Linked DNA regions of Homo sapiens. The protein of the gene in region 1 purifies or fractionates together with the protein of each later gene. This does not show direct contact. Each region holds a gene or a part of one and is shown in the gene's direction. Other genes may lie near its edges. The genes, in order: PON2, CTSF, SIL1 and LRIG2.

Region 1 (7,094 bases):
AAAATTACAATAATCACGAGTCACCTATTTCACAAATTACTGTGAGCGTTACAATTAAGAATACACTGCAAAGAACTTTAAAGAGTTAAAAGTACAATTATGAAAGGCAGTGTGCTCCAGGGACCATTTCAGTCTGTGAACTCTTTGTTTCTGGTCCATGGCTAGTTAAGTATAAAAAATTGAAAGTAAGCATTTAGAAACTGTTACAGAAATTTGACAAAGTAATTTTATGTCTGTTGAACCAAATAATAAAAGATTTGGGCTTGTATTTTGTATGTCTGGTTTTTTTACTTCCTCTTCCAGTAAGTCATTTTCATTGCATTTTACAAAGGCCAAGAAAAACCTGTCCTTCACTGCACATAGTTTGAGAAGCACTGATAAAAGGTATTATTATTTCTGAAATTTTGCTTAAAAAACCACTTAATAACCACTAAATAAGTCAGAAGTCATTATTTGAGAAATACTGTTTCATACCAAGTATAAGGAGTTGCCAGCACACAAGCAAGTTCCAGAACAAGTTTGTTTTGTATTGAGTAACTTGGTTATTTGGTAGTCAGAAACCACTTTCCCCAGGAAACAAACGTAAACCAGGGGTTATGTTCTTGGTGTGGCCTATACATCCTAGTTATCTCAAAAGACAGCTAAACTATACTATACAATGTAACAACCACTATAACATTCTTACAATGGTTTCTGATTTCCAAATTAGAAAATACGTCTCATCTCCATCCCCATGTGAGGAATGACAATTCCAGCCCTAGCATGGTGGTGGGGCTGGGGGTAAAGATGGATACTACTTCTGCAAAAGTTGCTTCAACCGCAACATTCAGAAAGAGAAAGAATATGGGGGTAGAAGATTCCTCACACAGATTATTGGGGGAACTCACTGGTCATGTTAATAAAGTTAAAATAAGGTTTCCATTTCTCTTGATTCTCTGAGGGTGAGCTTAGGTAGGTTTTGGTGGACTTGAAAGTCCTGGCTCATTATCACAAATGCTTCCATGCTAAATCCCAAGGTGTTGTTCCTCCTGACCACCCAGCACCAAGATGGCAAACAGGTTTCATCCTGAACTGAAATCTGTTCCCTAGCTCAGGGATTCTTATTTCCCTTTCGTTGTTGTTTTAAAAAATTGTGAGGACAAGTCTGGGTGTGATGAGACACTTTGCCAAAATCAATTAGTGACGCCTACCATGGGCCAGGGAAGAAAGGAAAGTCAGCACAAAAGCTGGTTTTGGTTGTTGTTGTTGTTTTTGCTATCCTGAGACTAGCCTAAAAGATGTAGACCTCCAACCCTTTAATGTCACCTGGAACCAGGTTGAAGAACATGACTATTAAGAACATGACTTTTTTCTTTTTAAAAAATTGGGAATAGCAAAAGGGAAATAGACAGAGAATAGCATATACTTGGATATTCTTATTTGCCATCTATGTGGTTTCCTCATTTTGCGGAACTTGTGGAAAGACACGGTAGCCTGGCTCCTGACCCAGAATCCATGAGGCATAGTTGTATGTACTTCCCTTGGGGCCTAAGAGATTAAGAGAGAAGCCCAGACAATAGTCCAAGGCCCTCTGCTTTAGGTCTTTCTTCTAAATTCTGATTCTTTAATTTTTTTTTTTTGTTAATTTTAATTTTTTTTTTGTAGAGATGGGTTCTCCCTATGTTGCCCACAATGGTCTTGAACTCCCCGCTTCAAGTGATCCTCCCACCTGGGCCTTTCAAAGTGCTGAGATTATAGGCAAGAGCTACCTTGCCAGGCCTAAATTCTGATTTTGTATCTGAGGCTCTTCTCTTCCTCAATAATTGACACCAAAAATAGTCCTAGAAAGGAGATTCCACCCTTCTCTAAACAGTCATAGCCTTAGCCTATGTCAGAGTTCTTAACCCAGTGGTCCATTGATAGTTCAGAGGAATTAATGACCTTGGATAAGAAAAAAAAAATCTTGATTTCAAATGGAATTTAGCATTTTCTTCAATTACAAAACTAGCAGACAAACCTCAGAAGCATTTGCAGTACTTGTGACTGTTACTAATGGAAATAACAGTTATTTTCATTATTTCATTATAGTTGTTTTCAGTATCATGAAAGAACATTTGCACTCCTCTTTATTTAAAAGAATGTTGCTAGATCTTGTTATTTAATATGTTAAATAATGTTGCACACATTACATTACCACATTACTATAGCAAAAAATTATGTTTTAGATATTTTAACAATTACATTTCAATTGTTGACCTTTAATTTTAAAGCTAAGGCAAAATTAATGTAAGTAGAGAGTTTATTTGGGCCAAGTTTGAGTACTGCAACCCAGGAGTATAGATTCAAGTTTCCCTAAATATACACTCTGATTAGCAGCAGTTACACATAGATTTTTAAGGGGAAGGAAGAGGCAGTTCCTAAATTCCTTGCGTTAAAATAACATAAGCTGTGGATTGGTTATACTTTGTTCTTTGTATCATAAATTCCAGGAATATGAAGATAATGGGTGGGACAGCTACTCGGGAACAAAATGTCTTTAAACAACTGTCCCCAGGCATGGGTATTGGGGCGTGACTGAAGTCCCATACTCATGTCGCTCTGGGCCTGATAAATTTTGCATACCTCACAAAGCTCAGACTGCTCTCAGCTATTTTTTTTCCTTACAATGTAATTGATTTTCTTTGCAATCTATACATTTTATTCATTTATTTAAAATTTTTTTTTCTTCTTTCTTTTTTTCATGAACCGCACAGAGAAAATTTATGCATTTTATTGTAAGCATTTATAAACATTATTCTAAGAAGTTATCCACAGGCTCACCACTGCCAGAAGGGTCCACGACACAAAAAAGGTAATGCCTCATGGGCTTTCAAAGGACAACTTTTTACTTCTCTTTCTACCATCCAGTATAATCCAATATCCTTAGGACTGAAGCAGAGATACACACACACACAGGGAGAGAGGTGTTTGTGCTTTTTTTTTTTTTTTTTTTTTTTGGTGAGAGGCAGGTGGGAAATTGGCATCCACTTTTATTTACTGGTTCTTTATAAAACTGATATTTGTTGAAAATTGTCAAGTGTGACCATTTCTGCCTACATATTGTAGGGTGGCAATTAAATACCGAAAACCATTAGAAGCTTATTTCAGATGTACTCATTTATTGTAATGGTATCAATCTTGATGGGTAAATTTCATTTTACTTTTAAAATTGTATTTTAAATTATTCCTTCATGTTACGGTTGTTAGAGTAAAAACGGAAAAGAAAAAAACTACACTTCTTCCCTTTGAGTTTGGATGAAAAAGACGTGTCTAAGTCCTTAAGTCTGTAGTCTGGAAGTATTAATAGAGGCTGGGCATGGTGGCTCATTCCTGTAATTCTAGCACTTTGGGAGGCTGAGGCAGGAGGATGGCTTGAGTCCAGGAGTTTGAGACCAACCTGGGCAACACAGCAAGACTCGGTCTCCACACACACACACACAGACACACACACAACTTACACACACTTAGCTAGGTGTAACGGTACGTGCCTGCGGTCCCAGCTACTCAGGAGGCTGAGGCTGGAGGGTCCCTTGAGTCCGGGAGGTCCAGACTGCAGTGAGCTATGATTGTGCCAATGTACTCCAGCCTAGGCAACACAGCGAGACCCTGTTAAAAAAAAAAAAAAAAAGTATTACGAGGCACAGGATGTTTATTTATTCGCAACTACGTCCTGTTATAAAAAGTAGTGATTCCAACGTGAAATATTTACACGACGCATCCCGTTACTTTCCCTCCCTTGGCCACCGACCCCCATCCCCAAAAGCTGCTTTCTATGTAAGTTTCTCACTGGAATAGCGAGTGAGAAATGTGTTTGAAGACTAGGGAAACGAGAAAGGTATGCGGGCTGCTAGAGGGTTTCGGGTGGGTTGTTTGAAAAAGGAAGTGAAGGAATTCAAAGTTTCACATCATGAGCCTAATGTAAGGCGTGTCCGGGCCGTCCCGAAGGTATCTGGGGAAATAGGTTTGTGAGGACAAAGACCAGGGCCAGGCCCAGGGCGGAGCCTCCGCGGCCCCGACGCAGGGACTCGGCCTAGGCGGAGGACGGGGCGGAGCGCGGCCGGCACCATCGAGCCGGGAAGATGGCACCGCCCACGGAGCTGCTGGCCAGGCCGGAGCGAGGCAGCGCGCCCGGCTCCCGCGCCATGGGGCGGCTGGTGGCTGTGGGCTTGCTGGGGATCGCGCTGGCGCTCCTGGGCGAGAGGCTTCTGGCACTCAGGTAGGTGGGACTCCCGCGCGCCCCTCCTCGGCGGTCCCCAGGCTCGGGGTGGCCGCGTGGTGCGGGGAGGGCGCAGGCTGGGGGAGGGATTCCTGCGGGACCTGGCCCTGCGGCCGGGGGTGGAGAATTTTTGAATGCTGTCCCTCCCCCAGCTAGTTGAACCCCCATCACCCCGACTCTCCGCTTCTAGTGAAAAAACTAGCAAAGTTTGGAGTGAATCGCGACACTTTCTTGAAAGTTTATAAGCCCTTGCTGCTAACAAAGTTCTCTTCTGCTTAGGCTGACAAGAGAATGCTTTGCAATTACCCAAGGGCCAAACTAGTGGTTTAAATTGAAAACAAAATGACTACTCATGCATTGAAACCTTAACTATGAAGATTTATTTCAGGTCATTGGTGCTGTTTCTCCTTGTTGCCCAAACCAGACCCGTCTTTAATAAAGTTGTTCTCCACCCATTTCTGCATAGTTTGAGAAACTCTTCAGCTGTAGATCAAAGACACTTGAAATATTCAGCTACTGTTCTTACTTCCTATTTATTCACCAGGGAAGCCTGAAGCCAGAATGCCAGACAGCGCAGACACTATTCCATCTCGCATTTTAGTTTTAATGAAAATCTCTGGTAGGTAGACATCATCGTTTATAAATTACCAACTCAACGTTTGTTTTTTGTTTATTTTATTTTTTGTAGAGATGGGGTCTTGCTGTATTGCCCAGGCTGTTCCCTAACTCTTGCACTCAAGCAATCCTCCAGCCTAGGCCTCCCCACAGTGCTGGGATTACAGGTGTGAGCTGTTCTGCCCTGCCTCAACCAAAATTTTATAGGCCTCATGCAAAAGAGTTCCAGAAAGACTGAGCACCTGCTATGTGTAATGTTCTCTCTTAGGCTTCTATAGTAGAGTACGACCCTTATGGAGTTTGATACAGGGGAAGAGAGAATTAAAATACAGTAAATGTATAAATTAGGATGTTCTAAGGACAGACACAAATGAACCGCATAGGCTTAAAGAGGAAAGATTCCATCCCCTGAGGGTGGAGTTCTAGAGGGAGGAAGAGACATTCGACCTGACCTTGAAGGGTGGGTGCAACACATATGAGCATGAAGGGGCCCATGCCAAATGTATAGTGCAGCAGGAGCAAAGGGGCTAAGGTGGGAAGTTGGAAGACTAGCAAATGGGCCAATTTGAAGGGAGCATAAAGTCAGGAGATGAGAATAGTAGGGTGGTGGGAAGGATAGGTTTTGAGGCCATTAAATATAAGTTGAAAAATGGGGCCCCACTTTCATAGGCCCAATAGTGCTTCAAAAGGGAAATATTGGTGGGTTTTGCTTTTCAACAAGAACTTAATATAACTAGTTGTGTTTTATAGAGATAAGCCTGGAAGGGGGGATTGGAGGAGAGCAATGGTTCTCTGTACATTAGAATCTCCTGGAGGGCTGGTGTCTGAGTGGCACCACCAAAGATTCTGATTCAGCTGTTCTGGATCAGAATCTACAGCTCACACCTGTAATCCCAGCACTGTTGGAGGCCTAAGCCAGAAGATTGCTTGAGCCCAGGAGTTAGTGACAGGCCTGGGCAACATAGCAAGATCCCACCTCTACAAAATGAATAAATAAATAAATAAATAAATAAAAAACAAAATTTGAGTTGGTAATTTATAAACTATGGTGTCTACCTACCAGAGATTTTTCGTTATAATTAAAATGTGATATGGAATAATGTATTGTTTGGCAAGCTGGCTTCAGGGTTCCCAGGTAAATAGATAAATAAGGAAGTGCATAATGTAAGAACAGTGGCTGACAGTAGCAGTGGCATTTTTTATTTTTAAAAACATTCCTGATAATTCTAATGAGCAGTCAAGGTCGAGAACTACTAGAATAGAGAGCAGACATGGGGTAACTGGTTAAGGTATTGCAGTAGGTCAGAGAGGATAACAGGGACCCAAACTCTGGAACCCCAGGGATGAGGGAGAAGTCAAAGGTGCTACCAGAGTTTGTGCCACAGCTCCACTGTCCCATGGTTGTAGTTTCATCTACTGATAAAGCAGTGCAAAGAGGAAGCGTGTGGTGGCTGAGATGGGAGTGAGATTTGAGGAAAGAACGCTTATGGGTAGGAAATGGACATGTTGACCTTAATTTTCATGTTAGGTAATGCCCATTGTGCTCTACAGAACATTCATGAGTTGGATGACTTTGTATATGATCTGTCCTGCTCTCCATTTCAAAGGCAAGACCACCAAAATTCACAAGCTTATTATGTTGTCACTAATGTGTAAGCCACCAGTTTTTCTGCAAGTTGGAAGTTTTCTCAACAGTCAAATATTCCCCCTTCTCACTAATCTTAAGGTTTTAAAGTTATAGCTGCAAATCTAAAAAAAAAAGAAAAAGTAAATAAAACTTATTGACAGAATGCCTGATAGTTTATTTACAGGTTTTTGTTTGTTTGTTTTTTGTTTTTCTTTGTTTTTTATTTTGACACAAGGTCTTGCTCTGCCGCCCAAGCCAGAGTACAGTGGTACATCAAAGCTCACTGCAATCTCAAACACCTAGGCACAAGCAGTCCTCCCTCCTCAGCCTCCTGAGTAGCTGGGACTACAGATGCATGCTACCATGCCCAGCTAGTATTTTTATTTCTTGCAGAGACAGGGTCTCACTTTGTTGCCCAGGCTAATCTCAAACTCCCAGCCTCAAGTGATGCTCCTGCCTCAGCCTCCCAAAGTGGTAGGATTATACACATGAGCCACCACCCTCGGCCTACTTTACAATTTGATGCACCTTTTCTTTACGTGACTGTGATGCACTTTAATGGGCAGTGACTTTATAAAATGGTAACTTTATTGGATATGTGGAGCCCCAAATGGGCTG
Region 2 (2,682 bases), on another chromosome or scaffold:
GCAACCGGAGCCACTTCTCCCTGTACAAGAAGTTACTTCATAATGGGGGGGAGACATGAGCATGAGAGTTACACAGAACTGGGTCCAGGTCTTAATGCTGACCCAGCCAGGCGTGGTGGCTCATGCCTGTAATTCCAACACTTTGGGAGGCCAACTTGGGAAGATCACTTAAGGCCAGAAGTTCAGGACCAGGTTGGGCAACATAGCAAGACCCCATCTCTACAAAAAATTAAAGACATTAGCCAGGCATGGTGGCTTGCATCTGTAGTCTCAGCTACTTGGGGGGCTGAGGCAGGAGGATCGCTTGAGCCCAGGAGGTTGAGGCTGTAGTGAGGCATGTTTGTGCCACTGTACTCCAGCCTGGGTGAAAGACTGCTGGGATGAGCTCTTGGTGAGGAGTCAGAAGTTGGAGTTGAGTTCTGTCTCTGCCACTTTTCTTGCTGGCTACTGGTCCCTCCTCCCCATCTCTCCCAGCCTCAGATGTGTCATTTCTAGAATGAAGACATTCTTCAGAGGGGATGGCCTGTGGCCTGGGGTGGACGAGGAATGTGAAACCTCGCGTAGAGGGCTTAGTTCATTTCTGGCTGTGAATGGCAAATGGGAGCCTGCCCTTCTCTACTCACCCCCACCGTTCCCCAGGAGGGCTGGAGACAGAGGATGACTACAGCTACCAGGGTCACATGCAGTCCTGCAACTTCTCAGCAGAGAAGGCCAAGGTCTACATCAATGACTCCGTGGAGCTGAGCCAGAACGAGCAGAGTGAGTGAGGGGCAGGGTGAGGTGAGGTCAGGTGGGGCCGGGGCCTGGGTGCCTACTGATGCCACCCCTTCCCATCTCAGAGCTGGCAGCCTGGCTGGCCAAGAGAGGCCCAATCTCCGTGGCCATCAATGCCTTTGGCATGCAGGTGAGGCCCTAGCCCCACTGCCCCTGCCCCATCTCTTGTTGACCTCCCCGACCTCTTCTTGGAGTCGATCCCCTACTCCTTCTCCACCTCCAGTTTTACCGCCACGGGATCTCCCGCCCTCTCCGGCCCCTCTGCAGCCCTTGGCTCATTGACCATGCGGTGTTGCTTGTGGGCTACGGCAACCGTGAGTTCCGCTGCCTGTCCTGCATCCAGCCAGGCCACAGGCAGGGGTGGGATCACAGCATCTCAGGTCCTCTAGAGGGGAAATAGGGGGAATGCCTAGGAACCCTGTCCTTACCCACTGCCTGGGCCATGACCAGCTGGGCATCATCTGTCCTCTCTATGGCAGGGAAGCTGAGCTGTGGGAGGGTAAATATTGATGGCCTAATAACCTGCAATAGGCGGGTGGGTGCGTGCTTCCTCCCTGCCCCAGGGCTTCTCCCTGAGGCTGGTAGGTGGGCCCCTCGCTTTCTGCTCTTTTCCTAGTCCCTGTCACACAGTAGGCCCAGTGCAAGTATTTGAAGGGTGCAAAGTGATTAAGGCTCTGCCTGGAGAATTAAGGACCCTGATCCTTGCGCTCTGCACTGCACCCCAGGCTCTGACGTTCCCTTTTGGGCCATCAAGAACAGCTGGGGCACTGACTGGGGTGAGAAGGTGAGTCTTGCTGGCTTGGCCCCTGGCCCTCCAGCCGCCATCCTACCCTGGTGCCCTCACCAGCTCCCCCTCTCCCCCAGGGTTACTACTACTTGCATCGTGGGTCCGGGGCCTGTGGCGTGAACACCATGGCCAGCTCGGCGGTGGTGGACTGAAGAGGGGCCCCCAGCTCGGGACCTGGTGCTGATCAGAGTGGCTGCTGCCCCAGCCTGACATGTGTCCAGGCCCCTCCCCGGGAGGTACAGCTGGCAGAGGGAAAGGCACTGGGTACCTCAGGGTGAGCAGAGGGCACTGGGCTGGGGCACAGCCCCTGCTTCCCTGCACCCCATTCCCACCCTGAAGTTCTGCACCTGCACCTTTGTTGAATTGTGGTAGCTTAGGAGGATGTCGGGGTGAAGGGTGGTATCTTGGCAGTTGAAGCTGGGGCAAGAACTCTGGGCTTGGGTAATGAGCAGGAAGAAAATTTTCTGATCTTAAGCCCAGCTCTGTTCTGCCCCCGCTTTCCTCTGTTTGATACTATAAATTTTCTGGTTCCCTTGGATTTAGGGATAGTGTCCCTCTCCATGTCCAGGAAACTTGTAACCACCCTTTTCTAACAGCAATAAAGAGGTGTCCTTGTCCCGAGTGTGGTATAAATGCTCAGTCCCCGGGGGTGAGGAGAGATGGCAGGGACTCCTGGCGGGTCAAGGTGGGATAGCTGGTCCTGCCCAGGAGCCTGAGGGGCCAGCTTCTGCTTCAGGAACTAAAAGGAGATGGGGAGAGACCCAGAGAGGGATCTTTATTCAGAAGCACTTGGCTGGCTTTTCTCTTAGGCCCTTGCTCCGAGGGACGGATGGGATCAGCCACAGGGTGCATCCTCTCTCCATCTTGCATAGAGAACCTCAGTGGTTGGGGTCAAAGGTCGCTCTCCCCATAGAGGGCACTGGAGAAGGCCACGTAGTCCAGGGCTCCAGCCGGGGCCCCGGATCCCTTGTAGGGCACCATACGGCGGATGCAGTACTCGGCCTGCTTGGCAGGGAGCTCGCGCCGCAGCTCCTCGGGGGTGATGTAGTTCTGGGGAGAAGAGGCGTTGAGGACCCACAGGTCCCGTGCCCTGCCCTAGCCCACCAGCCCCTCCACCGCCT
Region 3 (7,039 bases), on another chromosome or scaffold:
ATGATTGTGAGAAGTGGAGAAGTAGGGTGTGGGTTATTCTACCTTAGGTCTCAGCTGTTTCATATGTGGTTTGAGGTTGAAGATGAACTTGCATTACTTCCCCTTAACTCAGTGGTTGTGACAAAAAGCCTTTCTATTCTTCCTGAATATTGGAAATCGGACTTGAATAAGCGAATCTTGGAACATCTTGAGTGTGTTTTTAGAGCTGAGGCCTATATAGGCAGACTTTGAGGGCTGTCTTCTCTGGGCATCTTAGAAAGTATTAGTATTTTTGATAGCATAGATGAGAGAAGACTGTGAGTCTTGGAGCAGCAGTTTTTTGAGGATGGGCATCCATGGTAGACCACAGACATCTTGGGCAGATGTCTCCAACCAATTTAATCACCTCTTTGCTGCTCTCCTTAGGCAAGGCAGGCTGAGGTAAAGCGGCTCTTCCGCCCCATTGAGGAACTGAAGAAAGACTTTGATGAGCTGAATGTTGTCATTGAGACTGACATGCAGATCATGGTACGGCTGATCAACAAGTTCAATAGTTCCAGCTCCAGTTTGGAAGAGAAGATTGCTGCGCTCTTTGATCTTGAATATTATGTCCATCAGGTACTGTATTTCTTCGTCCATAAGTCAGACTTTTAACAGCTCCAAAAATAAATCCCCCTTCCCTAAGCCCTAAGAAAATAGCATCAACATCTTTACTTCTCTCCCAGAGCACAGACTATTTTTAATCTAGTCTTGTTATCTTTTGTAGTAAGATACAGTCTTAGAGGCCAGAGCCAACTTCTTTTTCTTTTTTTGTCTGAGTCAGAGTCTCACTCGGTCACCCAGCCTGGAGTGCAGTGGCGCGATCTCGGCTCACTGCAACCTCCACCTCCTGGGTTCAAGCTATTCTCCTGCCTCAGCCTTCCGAGCAACAGGGATTACAGGTGTGCACCACCACGCCCAGCTAATTTTTTGTATTTTTGATAGAGATAGGGTTTCACTATGTTGGCCAGGCTGGTCTTGAACTCCTAACCTCAAGTGATCCACCCACCTTGTCCTCCCAAAGTGCTGGGATTACAGGCTTGAGCCACCATGCCTGGCCAGCCAACCTCTTTTTCATGTGGAGTGGTACCTTCTTTAGTACCTCTGAGGGTACCACAGAGATAAAATAGACATAGTCCTAGTTATGCAGCTTATAGCCTGGAAGAGGAAGTAATTGAATAATGAACAATTGAACAAATTAATTAAATAATGAGATAATTTAAGATTGTAATGAGGGCTCCAGAGGGTGATGTAAGAATATGTAACTGGAGAACTTAGAGCCTAGTCATGGACAATAAGGGAGGCTTCTCAGAGGATGTGACATTTAGGCCAAGCGTTATAGGATGATTGGGGTTGGCTGGGTGAAGAGGGGGGACTAGAGCAGGGGATGGCAAACTACTGCCCATAGGTCAAATCTGGCCCAACACCTCCTTTCCTAAATAAAATTTTATTGGGGCACAGCAACCCCTATTTGTTCATGCATTGTTTATTGCTGTTTTTATGCCACAATGGCAGAATTGAGTAGTTGTGACAGAGACCATATGGCTCACAAAGTCAAAAATATTTACTACCAGGCCCTTTAGAAAAAGTTTGCCAATCCTTAGATTAGAGCATTCCAGCTAGAGGAAACAACATGTGCAGAGATTCTAGGGCAGGGACAAGCTTGGGGAGATTGAGGGCCTGGAAAAGATTGGAGTGACTGGAGCACAGCGGCCTGGAGGGGAGCATAGATGAAGTGGGAAGGTTCGGGGGCTGGAGAGGTGAGGTTGGAGATATCATGCTCTTTATGATTTTAGCCTTGATCCTAAGAACCACTAGAGAGTTTGAAGCAGGGAAGTAACTGATCAGACTTATAATAACTAATATTTGTTGAGTGTTGTCATATACCAGGCACTGCTTCAAGTGCTCTGTATGCATTAATTCATTGACTTCCGTGGCTGCCCTATGAGTAGGTACCACTATTAATCCCATTTTATAACCGAGGAAAATGAGGCACAGAGAGATTATGTAATTGCTCAAGATCATCCAGCCTAGTGAGTGGTAGAGCTGGAATTTGCAGCAAGGTCTGTCTGACCCTAAACTCTGTGCTCTAAAACTTTTGGCCACTCTGTTTCTCAAAGGCAACTGGTACCTTTTGAATTAAGCTCAAAAGGTGGAGCTAACAAGGAGCCAATAAAAGCCATTGATTTATTCAATAAATAAATCAAGTGTCTACTAACTCCCAGGCACTGTTCCAGGCACTTGAGATACGTCTATGAACAAAATTAGGGCTTAACCTTCTAGCAGAAGCAGATAGACAAGCATAAGAAAGAAGTAATTATATGTAATATGTTTGTAGGTAATAAATACTGTAGAAAAATAGAAACTATGGCGAGATAGGAACTGGCAGCATTGAGAAGGGGCATCTCTGGCTGGAGGAAGAGCAAGTGTGGAAGCCCGGTGGTGGGAACATGCCTAGTGTGTTTGAATCAGCTGGAGCTGAGAGCAGGCAGAGAAGAAGTACATACAGCTCAGAGAGATAATGGGAGGAAGAATATAGAGGGCCTGTAGGCCATGGAAAAGAGTGAACTTGCATATTATTGAAGGATATTGAGCAGAAGAATGATGTGATCTGACTTACTTTTAAAAGGATTCCTCCAGCTACTGTGTTGAGAATTAGACTGCAGGTGGGGGGCTTGGTAGAAGCAGAGACCAGATAGGAGGCTATTGCAGTAATCCAGACTAGGGGCAACAGTGGCCCAGGAGGCTGTGTAATCATAATCAAAGGCTTGTTTGAGATCCTTGTCAAGACACAGATCCTCAATGTCCTCCCATGCACCATGCACGACAGTGCCCTTGTTCTCTGTAAACTGGGCTAAAAGACATGCTTTCTTCCTTTAGGATTTTGCCAGCATCTGTGGTGAAAGAGGATGAGTATGCACTGTATCCATAGGAATTATGGGGCAGCCTCTTCATCTTCTTTCTCTGCTCATAACTCTTTCTCAGGCCTCAAATAGCAGGACTCTGATCCTCTTAGAGAAAAAAAATGAACCTCGGTTCTCTTTCCCCTTTCCAGTCTTACTCTCCAGGGTAAAAACCAAGAACTCCAACAGCTTTTCCATTAGAGATATTTAAAGGATTAAGGATATAAGGGGTTATTTGCCAACTCAGTCCTCCTTTGATGTTGACAGCTTCTATTTTTTCTCATCTTAACATATTTGGATGAATCTTTAGGTATCAGGTCACCATGGGCTCTTGCACATGAAACACCAAAATGACTGGAGAGCTTATCATACCTGGAAGGGTGTGAGTCCACAGGAGGCTTGGGCTAGCATTGCCCCAACAAAGTTCTTTGTTTTCCCTTGTAGGCTCTTTGTCACTTGGCAGTGTCTTCCCTAAGGTGACATCCCCATTCTGCTTTCACAGGCCACCTCACCAGACCCATCCTGAGGTCATCCCAAAATCAGTCCCTGGCAGAAGCCAAATTTGTCTGTTGGCAGAGAAATGTTCTGGATCATTGGTGTTTTGACTGGAAGGGCTGGTGCATCAGGCTGCCATGCAGCAATGTTAAGCTGTGATTTCACTGGGGGATTAAGTAAGACACAACTCGGCCCGAGTCCCAGTTGTGATGGGGGCTTGGGGTGATGTAGTACTAGTTTTAAGGAAGATGGCACTTTCCTAGCCAGGAACTTCCCCAGTCCTTTCTCATTCCAGACTCACTGAATGGTGGTTTGAGGAGCTGTAGGCTCCAAGGACCCAAACCAGGTCTGCCAGGCTTCCTCACAGCCATATTTGAATTATTAAACAGGATATGTGAAAAGCAAAACCTTGTGTGTGGAAACAGATGGTGAGTTATTTATGAGGAGCGGCCTCCGTCCGCCCCATCTACCTCGGGCAGTACATTTGCCTTCTCCCACGTGTCTCCTCAGCTGTGTGCCACCATTTTTCCCCTTCGCTGTTTCCCATTCTCTCATTGTCTTATCAGTGCCCTGCTTCTTTCCTTTCCTCCAGGGTGTTGGCATAGTTCCCTCCTGCACTCCCTCCTCCTCTTCCTCTCTGCCTGTCCCACCCCACCCCGAAGGCAGCCTGAGAACAGTTTTGGCCCCAGACCGAGATGGGGAGCTGTGGACCTGGGCTATGGTCATGGTTTCTCCTGTATGTCACCAGGGGGGGGCCCAGCTTTTGATGTGCACTGGGCAGAATGAATCGTTTCTTCCTCACTGTTAGTGAAGTAAACCATGAGAAAACATCCCAAAAAGGCTGAAGTGCTTATATAAATGTCTGCATTTCTATCATGCTGAATTATCATTGTAGTAATAGTAGATAAACTGACTCTAGAACAGAAGGTCCATGATTCTGGGCTGTGTTGCTTTGGAGCTGACCGAGTGGCAGCTGCTCTGCTAGGAACTCATACCAGCTTTATAAGTGGCCATTCCAGGCGTGGTATGACAGGATTCTGAGCCATAGTTTTGTATCCAGAAAACCCAGAGGAAGGACAACCAAAGAATAGGTAGTGAATTCTTACATTGTAAAATTAGAGCATGTAGGGAAGGAAGGAAGGTGCTTATGTCAGCAAAGCACCCAACCCTGAGTCTCCCTAGTTAGCTGGGCTGTGGCTCAACCAGTTATTCCTCTTCATAAGAACAGTTTGGGGCAGAAAAATGTCCATGGCCTGGGGCCACATGGCAGAGCAGACTTCATGCTTACTTCACAACCTGGTTTAGCCATTACTTCATGTCTGCGGTACCAGAGGCCCATTCATTTTGTTGGCACAGATACCCCAGATTGCCTTTTTATTCACACTGGAGCTTTATTTCAGGAACATTCTTTTCTGATCAAATTCATACTCATTAATGCAACAGTTATTCATTGAACACCTAACCATATGCTCAGCACCATCCTAGTCCCTGGAGCTACAAGCGTGGACAGACAGACAAAACCCCTGCTGTCATGGAGATTCCATCCAAATGTGTATGAATATGATTTTTCAAGTGGCAACAACAGGCTAGGCCACCACAAAACACTAGCACAGTCAAATACCAATCCTCACACTTGATTTCTCTGTCAGAGTCCTCTCCTAGTTCAGAGAGGCAAGGATGCAGTTGGGAAGGGGCCCTGTGGAATCTGGAGGAGAAAGATGGGTAGCAGCCACAGTTGTTGGGCTTCAGCTTCCTGAGTTTTCCTCATGATTGATAGCGTGGGATTAGCATATGGGCAAGATGCAGCCTTTGTGGCAACAAAGATATATTCGAGGGAGACTGTAGCGGGTACATGTAGAAAACAGGATCCAGTGACCTTTCTGAGGAAAGCGAGTTGTCTTGTTCCAGGGTACTAATAAACTGTGGGTAATGAGATCCGCTATAGAGTAAAAGAGAGAATCCGGACTTGGGGATTTGGAGCTTAAATGATAGCCTAGACCAATGCTGTTGAATAGAACTTTATGTAATGATAGAAATGTTCTGCACTGTCTGATACATAGCCACTAGCCAGTAGCACAGGCTTAGACAGAAACCTTTGGGAGAGCGATTTTCTTGCATATTTTATCATGAATGTCTTCAGATGCAGTCAACCTGAGATGCAAGAGAAAGGTACTATTGTTATTCCCCCCTCCCCAGCACTCTTACGGCAACCCCCCTCCCAATAACAGGGCTCCTTTTATAGTCCCTAGCTTCTAATTTAAAATCAGCTTTAAAAATCTGCCTCCACTGTCCCCATTGGGATTGGACATCAGCAGGAAGCATGGCACCATTTAGTGGTGCTGATGACGCCAGATTCTTTGTGTTAACAGCTTGTACATTAGGAGCAAGCTTTGTGACTCATTATGATATTAGAATTTTCCAGGACATGTTTGGCATAAGCAATAGCTAGGTGTCATTTCTGCTGATTCCCACGCAGGTGCTCATCAATCGTGTTAGATGAATTAGGAGTTCTCAAATTTAAGAGTATTAAAAAATTGGTTTTTACAAACCTTTTCTTAGTCAAAAAGGCCATTATTGATTTTTCCATGGCTTTTTAATTTGTTTTTGGGTAGTCACCAAAAGAAAGGCTCTAAGAACAGCTTTCCTGTCCCTGATGGCTATGCTGTACTAAGCAGTGGCTCTGTTGCAGATGGACAATGCGCAGGACCTGCTTTCCTTTGGTGGTCTTCAAGTGGTGATCAATGGGCTGAACAGCACAGAGCCCCTCGTGAAGGAGTATGCTGCGTTTGTGCTGGGCGCTGCCTTTTCCAGGTGAGCAGTATAATGGACGTCCCAATGGCCAGAATTGCTTGGCCTGATCTGCTTGGAAGAAGGGTACACTTGAATGTGCCTGTTGCTACTGACATTTCAGTGTCATCTCAATGAAACTAGAGTAAAATTTGATTCTGCCCTTATTCCAAGTAGATAGGAATTTTTACCCATGTTGTCACCATCTGTGACTCTCTGTTCCCCCATCTTATGTGTATGGACATTTAATAACACATCTTAGGTCACATTCTCTGTTTTATTCAAAGCTTGTAAAAAGTTAGACCAACTATAAATAGTAGAGAGGGAGGGGAATAAACAAGAGTAGGTCTTTTGGCAGTAAAGCTACATCTAGTGACGAATAAATGATGAGCCTGACCAAGGGGGTGCTTTCAGGGAGGAATGTGTCTTGCCCTAGTTGTCTGGAACCAATGTACATGCCGTCAGATTATCGCCCTCTCTAGGTTGGAAATTGTTGAGAATTTCAGTTAGTCTGGCTTGTGATGGAAGACTGATAAGGCAAGAGGAGTGGGGAGGTAGCATCTCGAAAGAGTAGATGCCAAAAGATATGTAGGCACCACATCATTCTACACCACCTGCAAAGGTCAAGATATCTGCATGCTGCAATTGGTCCATTGGAGCTATTGTTCCTCCCATTTTTGAAAATCTGCTCTTAGGACCATTTGTGCCTTTAAAACAGGAACAAATATTCTGATTCTTGCTGCAAGGGCATGGGTGGAGGCTATTAGATGCTTAGATGCAGGTCACGATGTTACAGGAGAAAAGCTATTCTGAACATATTTACCATTATAGGCTTT
Region 4 (7,039 bases), on another chromosome or scaffold:
CAATGGAATGACCTAAGATGTATTATTGAGTGAAAAAAGCAAGGGGCAAAATGTGTAAATTGTTGTGTCATTTCTGTAAAAATTTGCTGTACATGCATAAAATATCCAGAAGTCTGCACAATAAATGGCATATTTTCATTTGTTGTTACTGGGAAGGGGAATTGGGTGGCTGGAAACAAAAGTGGGAGACTTTTTACACTTTTTGATAATTGGACCATGTGAATATATTCCCAAACTCAGAAGCTACACACACATATATAAATACACACACGTAAAGTAAAATAGCTATTTTGAAATTCAGATACATTTTTATTCATCCTTTATAAACATTCTTGTCTATACTACTCAAATTGACATTTAAGAGGACTTTTTTTTTTTATTAAAAAAATTTTTTTGGCTGGGTGTGGTGTCTCACGCCTGTATACCCAGCATTTTGAGAGGCTGAGATGGGCAGATCACGAGGTCAGGAGATCGAGACCATCCTGGCTAACATGGTGAAACCCCGTCTCTACTAAAAATACAAAAAAATTAGCCGGGCGTGGTGGCGGGCGCCTGTAGTCCCAGCTACTAGGGAGGCTGAGGCAGGAGAATGGCGTGAACCCGGGAGGCGGAGCTTGCAGTGAGCCGAGATTGCGCCACTGTACTCCAGCCTGGGCGACAGAGCGAGACTCCGTCTCAAAAAGAAAACAAAAAAATTTTTTTTTTTTTTGAGACAGAATCTTGCTCTGTCACCTACGCTGGAGTACAGTGACGTGAACTTGGCTCACTGCAACCTCTGCCTCCCGGGTTCAAGTAATTCTCCTGCCTCAGCCTCCTGAGTAGCTGGGATTACAGGCGTGTGCCACCACACCTGGATGATATTTGTATTTTTAGTAGAGATGGGGTTTCACCAGGTGATTCTTGAACTCCTGACCTCAGGTGATCTGCCACACCTGGCAAATATTTGTATTTTTAGTAGAGATGGTGTTTGCCAGGTGAGTCTTGAACTTCTGACCTCAGGTGATCTGCCTGCCTCAGCCTCCCCAAGTGCCAGGATTACAGGCATGAGCCACTGTACCTGGCCAAGAGGACTTTTTGTATTTCTATTTAGTTTCTTTTTTTTTCTTTAGGTCTACTTTCCAGGACTAAACTAAGAATGATATTTTGTCCTCTTTCAGGGATTTCAGTCATAATCGGTTGTCTAACTGGAACATCAGCTTGGAATCACAAACATTACAGGAAGTGTAAGTTATTTTTATTTATTTAAAGTTATGTTAAATTCCTGAGGGAACTTAATAAATTGTGATTTGTGGGATGTTTAATCCAGAGATGCCATAAAAAAATTGAAGGAAAAAATTAGTTAAAAGAAATTATTTGAAAACCTAAAATGTTTTCTTTGGCTTTGTTATTATCAGACTGTCTTGGCATTGGGTTGGTGATTTCAAGTTGCAGGCTGTGGGGGAAATATTCTACCTTCCTGGGGCTAAAAGTAAGATTTACGCCTCTTCAGAGTAAATGTGTTTTGATTTTGGCCAAGTTTTCAGCCAGTGAAACTCTGTTGTATAACCTTTTTAAATGTCTTGACATGTTATCTAAGATTGGGAGCATCATGTCTAAAGTAGATTTATATGAAATAGAGTATTCTTGATATCATATGAGAATGTAATGATTGATAGAATTAAGTTTTTCTCTTAACTAAAGTTTTTCCTTTAATACTGAGATGTATTATGTAATTTTGGAGGGAGTTTTCTAAGATATTATTAATATTAGTTTTTGCATTGTTACATTCCTAGAGGCACAACCGTTAAGGTATATAGGCCTATTTGCCTCTACAATTAACACCATCAGAACCCTGAGATTTACTTTCCTTTTTAATTCTTTGCTAACAGGGATAACTTCTTCATGCTCATTGTCTCTGCATTCTCTCCTCCTGGCCCCAGATTCACTGCTTCTAATACGTTGTGGATGAGTACACAGTTGACAAGTTTGTTAGCTGAAAGAGTAGGCACTGAGGAAAGGCCTGAAAATGCTTCAGTGGGAAGTGCATGAGCTTTATTGCATGGACTTTGTAACTTTGGTTGGTTTCCTGAAGGTCTTTACTTCTGGTTTCTTTTCTGTGTTCTAGATTGTTGAGGTTGTTCAGTGACTAAAAACCAGGTTAATGAAATGTGATTGTATTAGATTTGCTACTAAAACATTTGAGACAAACTGTTTAAAGGGCTGCTGGGATCAGATGCAACATGTTATGTTATCTGTAAAATTAGTCATAGGTTCCATCTCTGGGTGGGCTGATAAATTTCATCTGTGGTCTCAAGTAACACTCTCTAACATTTGTATAGCTTTAGAAAAAATATATATACATTTGTGTGTTGTGTGTTTATATATATTTAGAGAAAGAGAGATCTGGATGGACTGATTATGCCTTCTTTAAGGACTCAAATTAGCTGCCATAAACCCAACTTATTCAAAGAACTTTGCTTGAACTAACAATATTTAATGTGCAAAATACTTCATAACCTTTCTGATATTAATATCAATAGTAGATCAACACTATGAAAATACATTTCTTGGCCAGGCATGGTGGCTTACGCCGGTAATCCCAGTACTTTGGGAGGCCAAGGTGGGCAGATCACCTGAGGTCAGGAGTTTGAGATCAGCTTGGCCAACATGGTGAAACCTGTCTCTACTAAAAATACAAAATTAGCCGGGCGTGGTGGTGCATGCCTGTAATCCCAGATACTCAGGAGACTGAGGTAGGAGAATCACTTGAACCCAGGAGGCAGAGGTTGCAGTGAGCCAAGATTGCACCATTGCACTCCAGCCTGGGCAAAAAGAATGAAACTCTGTTTCAAAAAAAAAAGAAAAAAAAAAGAAAGAAAATACATTTCTCATTAAAACCTCTAATTTCTCAATAAATACATTTTTATTTTCGTCTAACTCATTCTGAGTCATATTCTTTTTCAAATTTGGCACCTATTCTAAAGAATATGTGTTAGCCAGAAGGTAGAATCCAAGAGGTAATATTTCCCTCACTAAACATTTAAATCTGTTTTTCCTCTTGCCTAGGAAAATGAATTACAATGAACTAACAGAAATCCCGTATTTTGGAGAACCTACATCTAATATTACTCTACTTTCATTGTAAGTTAGTAAGTTTTCAGGTTTTTTACTTAAATTATGAAAAGTATACATTTTTTTTTTAAAGCACATATATTGTTGATTCTAATTAACATTTTTGTGGCCTGGGGTGGATCAGTGGCAGCAGCTTCATTATAATCTTTGTTTTACAGAGTCCATAATATAATCCCAGAAATAAATGCACAGGCACTCCAGTTTTACCCTGCTCTGGAGAGTTTAGACCTCAGCTCAAATATAATATCAGAAATCAAGACATCTTCATTTCCTCGCATGCAGCTTAAATACCTGTAAGTAACACAGATTAAATTAGATTTACTTTAAAGCACATGTTTATGGGGACTGTTGTGGGGTGGGGGGAGGGGGCAGGGATAGCACTGGGAGATATACCTAATGCTAGATGACGAGTTAGTGGGTGCAGCGCACCAGCATGGCACATGTATACATATGTAACTAACCTGCACATTGTGCACATGTACCCTAAAACTTAAAGTATAATAATAATAAATAAATAAAAATAAAATAAAATAAAGCACATGTTTATTATTCATCAGTACCTATCCAAAAATATTTGGTTATTTATTGTGCTTTTTATATGCATATGTGAGACAAACCTAGAGTTGGTGTGTTGGGTGGTTGGCTTTGCCACTCACCCCACAAGCCCCCTAAAGAAAGATCGCACTATTGTCAGAAAATATTGGTAGATATCAAGGGTAATTTTGAGATTCAATTTTGTTTGTTTTTTTTTGAACCAAGCTTTCTAAAAGGTAAATAGAGATTTGTTAAACAATGGCTTACTGTATATAATGATAATTAGCATGTGTGCCAGTGTTTTCCAGTTTACAAAGCATATTCACACATGCTGTTTTGTAACAACCTAAATGAAGTAGGTAGCTTCTTAATTTTGTAGATGAAGAAACAGAGCAGTTAAATGATTTATAAAGTTGTGGATGGGCATTAAGTGATAGAGCTGGGGGCTTAGACATAGATTTTTGGCAGCTTTCTAGTGGTAGAATTTTTATTTTACTAAATTTTTTCTTTTGCTATTATCTTGTTTATTTTAGGAATTTAAGTAATAACAGAATAACCACCTTGGAGGCTGGTTGCTTCGATAATTTATCAAGTTCCTTATTAGTGGTAAAGTTAAACCGTAACCGAATGAGCATGATTCCACCTAAGATCTTCAAGCTGCCTCACCTCCAATTCTTGTGAGTAACGAAATAGACGGATTATAAGAAGATAGTTTTTTCTTACAGGGTCTTTTTCTTTTTAATTTAATTACTGTTAGAACATTTTAGCAAACCAATTTCCTGACTGTAAAACTATTTTTGTTAAAGGGAACTTAAAAGAAACAGAATTAAAATTGTGGAAGGTCTTACATTCCAAGGGCTTGACTCCTTAAGATCTTTGAAAATGCAGCGGAATGGAATTAGCAAACTTAAGGATGGAGCATTTTTTGGCTTGAATAACATGGAAGAACTGTAAGTACTCGGGACTAGAGGTGATTATTAGGAAAGTAGTCTGTTTGGGACTTTTCAGTGTCGAATGGCTAGGGTAGTTGTTCTGATTATAGAGATACATTCATTCATTCCCTGGTCACTGATGTGAAGTAAGCGTACATAAAACCTTTAAAGTTTTGTTAGCTAACTGATCAATTTTGAAATAATTCTTACAAACTTCTCATCTAAAAAGTTTATATATATATATATATTTTTTTTGAGATGGAGTCTCACTCTGTTGCCCAGGCTGGAGTGCAATGGCGTGATCTCAGCTCCTGCAACCTCTGCCTCCAGGTTCAAGTGACTCTCCTGTCTCAGCCTTCTGAGTAGCTGGGATTACAGGCGTGTGCCACCAGGCCCGGCTGATTTTTGTATTTTTAGTAGAGATGGGGTTTCACCATGTTGGTCAGGCTGATCTCGAACTCCTGACCTCATGATCCACCCACCTTGGCCTCCCAAAGTGCTGTGATTACAGGCATGAGCCACCGTGCCCGGCCAAAAAGTTTATATTCTTAATGTTTTGGCTAATGAAAATTACCAGAATTTATCCAAACAGGTATACTATACCACTTGGCCTGTTGGTTTTGTAGAGCTCCTATTTTAGACAGTCTTACTACCTTCTAGCACTAAATCTCTTTTTTTGTTGTCGTTGTTGAGATAGAGTCTTGCTCTGTTGCCAGGCTGGAGTGCAGTGGCACAGTCTCGGCTCACTGCAACCTCTGCCTCATGGGTTCAAGCGATTCTCCTGCCTCAGCCTCCCGAGTAGCTGGGACTACAGGCGCGCGCCACCGTGCCCAGTTAATTTTTGTATTTTTAGTAGAGATGGGGTTTTACCATGTTGGTCAGGGTGGTCTTGATCTTTTGACCTTGTGATCCGCCCACCTCGGCCTCCCAAAGTGCTGGGATTACAGGCATGAGCCACTGTGCCCGGCCAAGCACTAAATCTTAAATAAGATATTCATTTTTATTGAATAGAATTGGTCAGCTCAGTTGGGTTGAACAAAGGTATATGCTTCTCTGGGAAAAACTTAAGATTTAAAGCTAGTTATTGAACTGCCTTGTTTTGGAACGTATTTTCTTCTCTTTCTCTAATTCTGCAGAGAACTGGAACACAACAACCTTACACGAGTAAACAAGGGGTGGTTGTATGGCTTGCGAATGTTACAGCAGCTCTATGTGAGCCAGAATGCTATTGAAAGAATCAGCCCTGATGCATGGGAGTTCTGCCAAAGACTATCCGAACTGTAAGTGTTGGATAGCATTTCACTGGAGGCAGTTAAGACTAGAGCAGATTGGAATAAATCATTCCCATGGGCAGTAATGAGATGTAACATCCCTCTTTACTAGAAATTTGTAGAAAGCTCTAAATTTACCATGTAGATATAATAAGAATTGTAAGTTGAACCAAATACAATGAATTCCTTACCTTCCACATTTCTTGTTTTCAGTGATTTGTCCTATAACCAGCTGACCCGCCTGGATGAATCTGCCTTTGTGGGTCTGAGCTTATTGGAGAGATTGAATTTAGGAGACAACAGAGTCACTCATATTGCTGATGGTGTATTTAGATTTCTTTCCAATCTTCAGACATTGTAAGTATATCCATTCTCCTTTTTGGTTGTTGTTACTGATTTTTTTAGTACAATAAAGCAAATTAATTAAAACAACTAATCAGTCTGCAAATTCTGTATGCTAACATTTTGTGGTTCTTCTGTCCTATGCCTCAGAGCAAGGCAGTCTTATTTGTCTCCATCCCCATAAAAATCCCAAGCCTGTCGTAGGCAATTCAGTTTGTAGTTTAATTCTGAGTTAATCCCATAAGCATCAAAGCATGTCTTATTGTGTTAGTTGCTGTGGAATAAAACACAGTTGCTAGTGTCAGGAGAGCAGTCATTTTCTTGTTCCTTTGACTTTGACAATACACCAGAGCTACTAGTTCTCATTCGAAAGGATGCAGGTTGTGTAGTGGGAACTGCCGTGGTAGGAGACCAGTTCACTGTTACTGGTTTGCTACATGACTTTGGACAGAAGAAACTAATACTTATTATCTGATATGTGCCAGGTACTTTCAAATACTAGGATGATACTGCTGTTTTCCATATTAGGAGGCTGAGGTTCAGAGAAATTTAAATAATTTTCTCTAAGTCACATAGCTTGTAAATGTTGGGCCAGAATCAGATCCCAGGTCTGTTTGATGCTAAAGCTCATGTCCATTTTATCATACCAACAGAAGAACAAAATCACTTAGCTTTTCCTGGCCATCATTTTTTTTTCTCCTTTATACGGTGAAGGAAGGATATAGGATTAGATGGTTGCTAAAGGCAGTTTCCACGCTAAAATTCTGTGGTTCTGTAAGTTATTCAATTTACAGAATATAAGAATGTGTTTTTGTGAACTTTATATATTTATATATAAATATATCTAAT

The links.
Region 2: the proteins of PON2 (region 1) and CTSF purify together in Homo sapiens (affinity purification with mass spectrometry; 3 studies listed by BioGRID and IntAct, with this or other methods). This does not show direct contact.
Region 3: the proteins of PON2 (region 1) and SIL1 purify together in Homo sapiens (affinity purification with mass spectrometry; 3 studies listed by BioGRID and IntAct, with this or other methods). This does not show direct contact.
Region 4: the proteins of PON2 (region 1) and LRIG2 purify together in Homo sapiens (affinity purification with mass spectrometry; 3 studies listed by BioGRID and IntAct, with this or other methods). This does not show direct contact.

The regions. Positions count from the first base shown.
Region 1 is NC_000007.14:95,432,018-95,439,111, reverse strand, and holds the start of PON2 (serum paraoxonase/arylesterase 2), read left to right. Parts: upstream 1-4,083; 5' UTR 4,084-4,160; coding exon 4,161-4,234; intron 4,235-7,094. UniProt on the Homo sapiens protein: Capable of hydrolyzing lactones and a number of aromatic carboxylic acid esters. Has antioxidant activity. Is not associated with high density lipoprotein.
Region 2 is NC_000011.10:66,562,964-66,565,645, reverse strand, and holds the end of CTSF (cathepsin F precursor), read left to right. Parts: intron 1-639; coding exon 640-759; intron 760-839; coding exon 840-904; intron 905-997; coding exon 998-1,088; intron 1,089-1,499; coding exon 1,500-1,558; intron 1,559-1,638; coding exon 1,639-1,713; 3' UTR 1,714-2,182; downstream 2,183-2,682. Other genes in the region: ACTN3 (alpha-actinin-3), read right to left, coding at 2,453-2,611. UniProt on the Homo sapiens protein: Thiol protease which is believed to participate in intracellular degradation and turnover of proteins. Has also been implicated in tumor invasion and metastasis.
Region 3 is NC_000005.10:139,020,359-139,027,397, reverse strand, and holds part of SIL1 (nucleotide exchange factor SIL1 precursor), read left to right. Parts: intron 1-405; coding exon 406-597; intron 598-6,105; coding exon 6,106-6,227; intron 6,228-7,039.
Region 4 is NC_000001.11:113,090,161-113,097,199, forward strand, and holds part of LRIG2 (leucine-rich repeats and immunoglobulin-like domains protein 2 isoform 1 precursor), read left to right. Parts: intron 1-1,157; coding exon 1,158-1,223; intron 1,224-1,868; exon of another isoform or gene 1,869-1,980; intron 1,981-3,045; coding exon 3,046-3,120; intron 3,121-3,269; coding exon 3,270-3,404; intron 3,405-4,178; coding exon 4,179-4,322; intron 4,323-4,451; coding exon 4,452-4,595; intron 4,596-5,713; coding exon 5,714-5,857; intron 5,858-6,061; coding exon 6,062-6,205; intron 6,206-7,039.